Linked DNA regions of Homo sapiens: region 2 is linked to region 1. Evidence: fine-mapped expression QTL. A gene starts in region 1. The other region holds a variant in brackets. All regions are shown on one strand. Distances are from middle to middle. Region 1 holds the start of RAB28 (RAB28, member RAS oncogene family). Region 2 overlaps RAB28 (RAB28, member RAS oncogene family).

Evidence for each region. PIP is the estimated chance that this variant, and not a neighbour inherited with it, causes the effect.
Region 2: its variant is fine-mapped to the expression of RAB28 in monocytes after R848 (Quach 2016, PIP 0.95).

The regions. Positions count from the first base shown.
Region 1 is chr4:13,482,800-13,485,705 of GRCh38, reverse strand. It overlaps RAB28 (RAB28, member RAS oncogene family), which reads left to right and starts at 1,366. Exons shown (of 7, transcript NM_001017979.3): 1 at 1,366-1,630. The coding sequence starts at 1,556. It overlaps LOC105374495 (a long non-coding RNA gene), which reads right to left and starts at 1,257. Exons shown (of 3, transcript XR_925413.1): 1 at 752-1,257. RefSeq lists silencers at 905-964, 927-1,221, 1,215-1,834 and enhancers at 1,105-1,224, 484-1,391, 1,187-1,481.
Region 2 is chr4:13,383,130-13,386,035 of GRCh38, reverse strand. The region is part of intron 4 of RAB28 (RAB28, member RAS oncogene family); the gene reads left to right. Among named protein-coding and RNA genes, the nearest start is that of RAB28, 100 kb to the left of the region's middle. RefSeq lists an enhancer at 1,346-1,845. The variant GCAC/C (reference allele first, on the strand shown) is at 1,661.

The DNA.
Region 1 (2,906 bases):
GTTCTACAGGTGAACTAACTGAGGCTCGAGGACACATATCTAGTAAACATGAGATTAAACTCCAGTGATGCCTCTAGGTCTGGGCATTTCTTTACACTGTTCTGCTTTCCTGTTCTAATGCCCATATGGTCTCCAAGACTACTGCCTCTGGGCTAAGCATTTTGTTAACTTAAGATACTTCATCTGCAAAATGGGGATAATTATACTTCATAATTCCTAATAGTAGTAAAGGTAACAATAAATTTTAAGTGATTAACAATGAAACAACCATAGCAGGACAGCATTATTATTTTTGAATTTACCTCACTAAATTGTAAATTTCATTTATGCCGTTTACCTAACGCTCCTGGACTGAGATTATCCAGGGCAGCAGTTCTTAAATTTTTTGGACTCAGGGCCTCTCTATAATGTTAAAGAATTACTGTGACCTCCAAAGAGCTTATGTTTATGTGGGTTACACCTATCACTACTGCATTGAAATGAAAACTGAGAAATGTTTAAAAACAACAAACGCAAGCTCCCTTAGCTGCCAGTGATGACGTCGTACACAAAGCGTATCCTCCAGGAAACGGTATACTAGTGAGAGAAGGAACGTGAGAAAGACAGACAAGGTGTCCGTATTATTATGAAAATTGTTCTGAGGTCATCGGGATTTCCAGAGGTCCCTAGACCACACTTTATGAGAACTGCTGCCTTAGGGTAAAGATGGGGTGCCAGGAGGTTGGCGATCAGTAGCGTCTGATGAACGAACCATGGGAGCCTGGGGTTGTTCAGATGAGGAAACCAAGAGTTAGGCCGAAATAAGCAGCGCCGGAGCTCCACTGTATTCACGGCCGCTACTGAGGCTTCCCAGCAGCCTCGGCCCTTAGCAGCTGTCCCCTCATCCGCCCCGAGGTACCCTCTTCCCTGGTCCGGTTTTTCAGGGGCCCTCTCTGGCGCTCTCCGCCAGGCTACGGGCGTCCCGGGTGCCCGGAGACAGGCCCCGCCCCGCCGCCGGTCCTCGAACTCCTGGCTGCCAGGCAACCCTGGCGCGTAGCCCGGGCGTCACTGCTCCACCCCGTCAGGCTGAACCATTCCCTTCAGAGACTTTCTCAAGAGGGAAGGAGAAAAGGGAATTTGATGGAACGCCTGAAAGCTGCTCTGCTCCCGTTTTCTCTCCTTAATTTGAACGAACACTTCTTTTCTTCTTCTAGCCAACTGTCTCCTGAAGGGAAACGCAGCGCCTCGCCTCTCCCGCCGGAATGTCCCCCACACCAGTCCAGGGCCGCGAGTGGTTCGGCTCGTCAGGCGGGGCCGCCGGTCGGCGCGGGTTGGCTCTGAGGCGGGGGCGCGCGCCCGACGTGCGCGTAGGGGGCGGGGCCGCGCGCAGAGGGCGGGGAGGTGGGCAAGATGGCGCTTGCCGAGTGATTCTCCTCGAATACCTCCTGCCGGCGCGGAGACACCGGGGCGGGGGTCCTGCCGCAACTACCTCCCTTCCTCCTCTCCCCCGCCCCCGGAGCCTTCATCCTTCCCTTCCCCCCCCACCTCGAGGGGCGGGCCTGGTTCCCGGGACACCATGTCGGACTCTGAGGAGGAGAGCCAGGACCGGCAACTGAAAATCGTCGTGCTGGGGGACGGCGCCTCCGGGAAGGTCAGTCCTCGAGCAGGCCCGCCGTCCCAGGCCTGCAGGAACCCCGGCGGTCCCCGGCCTCCTCCCCGCCGCCCGGCGTCGCCTCGTTACCCCGAGCCCTCGGGCTTCTAGGCCCGGGCCCTTCTGGTTGTGTGGCCTGAGGCCGGACACGAAGTGGGCGCTTGGTGAAGGCCGACGAGAGCTGTCCAGCTCCCCCTTAAAAAAGAGTCACTTCCTAACTCCCCGCCTGGATTGCGAACTCCTGCAAGACTCGGGCCAGCCTTTCAGCTTCCCGCCTCTCAGGACTGGCAGGGATTTGCCAAGGCATCTTAGCTCCTCTTACTTGTAGTCTGGGTCACACTTACTCCTCCCCTCCCACCCCCTTTACCGTTTCTGATGCTTCTACTGCATCGTGAGCTCCCAGGAGCGTAGCTCTGGAATCAGTATTCCCCGGGTGAGAATTGGGGCTCTGCCACTTAGTCGTCGGGTCATTGGAGGGCAAATTGCTAATCAGTTTAAGCTTCATCTGTAAGATGGGTATTGAAAAGGGCCGCCGCAAAGGGAGAAATGTGAAAATACATATTAAATGTGAAAATACACATAAAACCTTTAGAGCACAGTGTCCACTCAGTACACTCTAGTTGCTATTTTAATATCATACCTGTTCATCACCTCTGTTTCCAGCTCAGCACTCGATACAAGCAGTCAGTCAACAAGTGTTTATGGAGCTCCTGTTACGGGTAGGATGCTGAGGGTAGAGCTGCTTGCGTGACAAAAGGGATCCCCTGTTCGAATGAATGAATGCGGGCGTGAGAATATCAGGCAGCGTCAGTCTTATTATCTCCTAGGCAGGGGCTCCTACCCCAAGGCTGTGGAACTCCTGAAATGGAGTAAATACTGCCCGGTACGTGCTCTGGGGAGAGGGTCCATAAGATCTCAGAGGGGTCTATGATCCCTCCACCAGCAAATAGTGAAGAGCCTCTACCCGGATGCCTTCTTTCCCATGCTTCTGTCAAAGGCGCCAACACTTTCTGGGAATATTGCTAAAGTTTATCACCCCTGTACTCCCCTTCCTTATCCCAACCATAGTCTAAAGAAACCCAGGCTTTTATTTCCTGTTTAAGGCTTCACATTTCCCTGTTGCTGGTTGCATTTCGGACCCTGGTTTCTCTGGTGACGACTTCTCTTTGCATCCTCCCTGACAGTTGGCACTGCCCAGATACCTGCTTCTGCCTTTGGTTCTGACATTTGAGTTTCGAGGTCACCTGGGAAAGATGTAAAATTTTATATGCAAAAT
Region 2 (2,906 bases), 100 kb after region 1:
GTTTTTGTTTGATATAATTCTGTTTGTCTATTTTTGGTTTTGTTGTCTGTGCTTTTGAGGTCTCATCCATAAAAATCTTTGCCCAAACCAATGTCTGTAAGCATTTCTCTTGTTTTCTTCTAGGAATTTCACAGTTTCTGGTCTTAAATTTAAGCCTTTACTCCATTTTGAGTTGATTTTTGCTTATGGTGAAAGATAAGAGTCTGTTTTTATTCTTTCGCATGTGGATGTCATCATGAGGTTAGCTGGTTATTATGCAGACTTTTTTGTGTGGTTGCTTTATAGTATCAGTGGTCCGTGTACTTAAGTGTGTTTTTGTAGTGGTTGATAGTGGTCTTTCCTTTCCATATTCACTGCTTCCTTTAGGAGCTCTTGTAAGCCAGGTCTGCTAAGAATTCCCTGAGCATTTGCTTGTCTGAAAAGGATCTTATTTCTTTTTTGCTTAGTTTGGCCAGATATGAAATTCTGGGCTGGAATTTCTTTTCTTTAAGAACATTGAATATTAACCCTTCTGGCCTTTAGGGTTTCTGGTAAGAGGTCTGTTAGTCTTATGGGCTTCCCTTTGTATGTGACCTGACCCTTCTCTCTAGCTGCTTTTAACATTTTTCCTTTTATTTCAACCTTGGAGGATCTGATGATTATGTGTCTTGGGGATGATCTTCTTGTGAAGTATCTTACTGGGGTTCTCTTCATTTCCTGAATTTGAATGTTGGCCTCTCTAGCTAGGTTGGGGAGATTCTCATGGATGATATCTTGAAATATGTGTTCCAATTTGCTTCCAATCTCCCCATCTGTTTCAGGGACACCAATGAGTTGTGGATTTGTTCTCTTTATGTAATCTCCTATTTCTCAGAGATTTTGTTCATTCCTTTTCATTCTTTTTCCTTTATTCTTGTCTGACTTATTTCAGGAAGCCAGTCTTCAGGCTCTGGGATTCTTTCCTAAGGTTGATCTATTCTGCTATTAATAGTTGGAATTGCATTATGAAATTACTGTAGTGTATTTTTCAGCTCTATCAGGTCAGCTATATTCTTTTCTGTACTGGCTGTTTTGTCTGTCAGCTCCTGTATCATTTGGATCTTCCTTGGATTGGGTTTCAACATACTCCTGCATCTCAGTGACCTTCGTTTCTATCCATATTCTGAATTCTTTTTCTGTCATTTCAGCCATCTCAGTCCAGTTCAGAACCCTTGCAGGAGAAGTAGTGCCGTCATTTAGAGGAAAGAAGGTACTCTGGCTTTTTGAGTTGTTAGAGTTCTTATGTTCATTCTTTCTCATCTTTGGGGGCTTATGTTCTTTCGGTCTTTGATGTTGCTGATCTTTGGACTTTTTTTCTTTTATCCTATTTGATGACCTTGAGAGTTTGATTGTGGTATAAAGTGGGTTCAGTCAACTGGCTTCATTTCTGGAAGATTTTAGGGGGCCAAGCCTCAGCTCCCAGCTCCTGGACTGCATGCTCTAAATCTGGGGGACTTGTATCCAGCCCCAGATTTGTTCTCTGACTCCTCGAGGTTAGGAACCCACTGTGCTGGTGGGACCTACGTATTCCTGGACCACTGGTCATTACACTTCAGTAGGTGGTACTAGCCAAAGTGTTTCGTAAGGCAGCGGCAGTGGGATTTGTCCTTGTTTGCATGTGCTAGCAGCAGCAGCAGCAGCA[GCAC/C]GGTGGGGTACACACTCATCAACTGCAGCAGGGTGCTAGCAGGTGCCTGCCTCCCTGCAGGCATTCACAGCAGCAGCAGAGGCAATACTGCTTTGAGGGCCCCTGCTGGCTACTGTGCTGGTGGTGGTATTAGCATGGGGGTCGGGTGCTGGCGGGTGCAGGTCTGTGCCTGCCCTCTGTGCATGATCACTCAGGTGGGGTGGCTGCTCAGGGTAGGGGAGGTCCATTGTTCTCCCTTCCTAGTTTCACTCTTGCGGCAGTGTTGGTGCAGGGGTGAGGCTCTGGAGGTGGTGGGGTTGGCAGGGTTCACTGGGGCGAGGGAGGCTGGTGCATGGCGGTGAGTACTACTTTCCACCAGTCAGGTGCAGTGCACCAGTGCAGAGGTATAATGTGGACCCCCAGTACATCCAAGACTGCACTGCAAGCAAGTATGGCCAGGCTGGGACCTCAGGAGAGGGCAGCAGACCAAGGGATGCTGAGGTTGGACTAGCCCTGTGTGATAGGCAGGACTGCCCTGCATCATTCAGGTCTGACAGTTCCCCTAGGGCTAAAATCTCCTGTGGGAGCACAGGCACGCCTTACATGGCGTCAGGCAAGATGGCATGTGCAGGGGAACTGCCCTTTATAAAACTATAAGATCTCATGAGAACTTATTTACTATCATGAGAACAGCACAGGAAAAGCCGTCTCCATGATTCAGTTACCTTCCACCAGGTCCCTCCCATGACCTGTGAGGATTATGGGAGCTACATTTCCAGATGAGATTTGGATGAGGACACAGCCACCCAAGATGAGATTTGGGTGGGGACACAGCCAAACCATATCACTACCTGCCACAATACCTGGCATATAATAGATGCTCAATAAATGTTTGTTGAATAAGTTCTTTTTTTTTCAATTGAACAATGGTACTACTAGTCTTTCCATGGTTATATTTGTTAGGAAAAAAACTTTTGTTTGAGTAGTAAATGATAGATGGAGATTTGGAAGGAAGGAGGGAGAAAGAGAAATAAAAAGCAATAAACCATTAGAAAAAACAAATGTACACACACATTAAGTGACACAACTTTTATTTTTATTTATTTATTTTTTAATGGATGGTGATTTCAATGGGTGGCGATTTCAATGGGGATTTTTCCTCGTGACAAGATTTGTTCTTACTCTTGTTGAATTAGAAAAGTTAGCTCCAATATTATGATAAATTGGATATATAAATGTCAGTGCTAATAGCTTAGTATTTTAG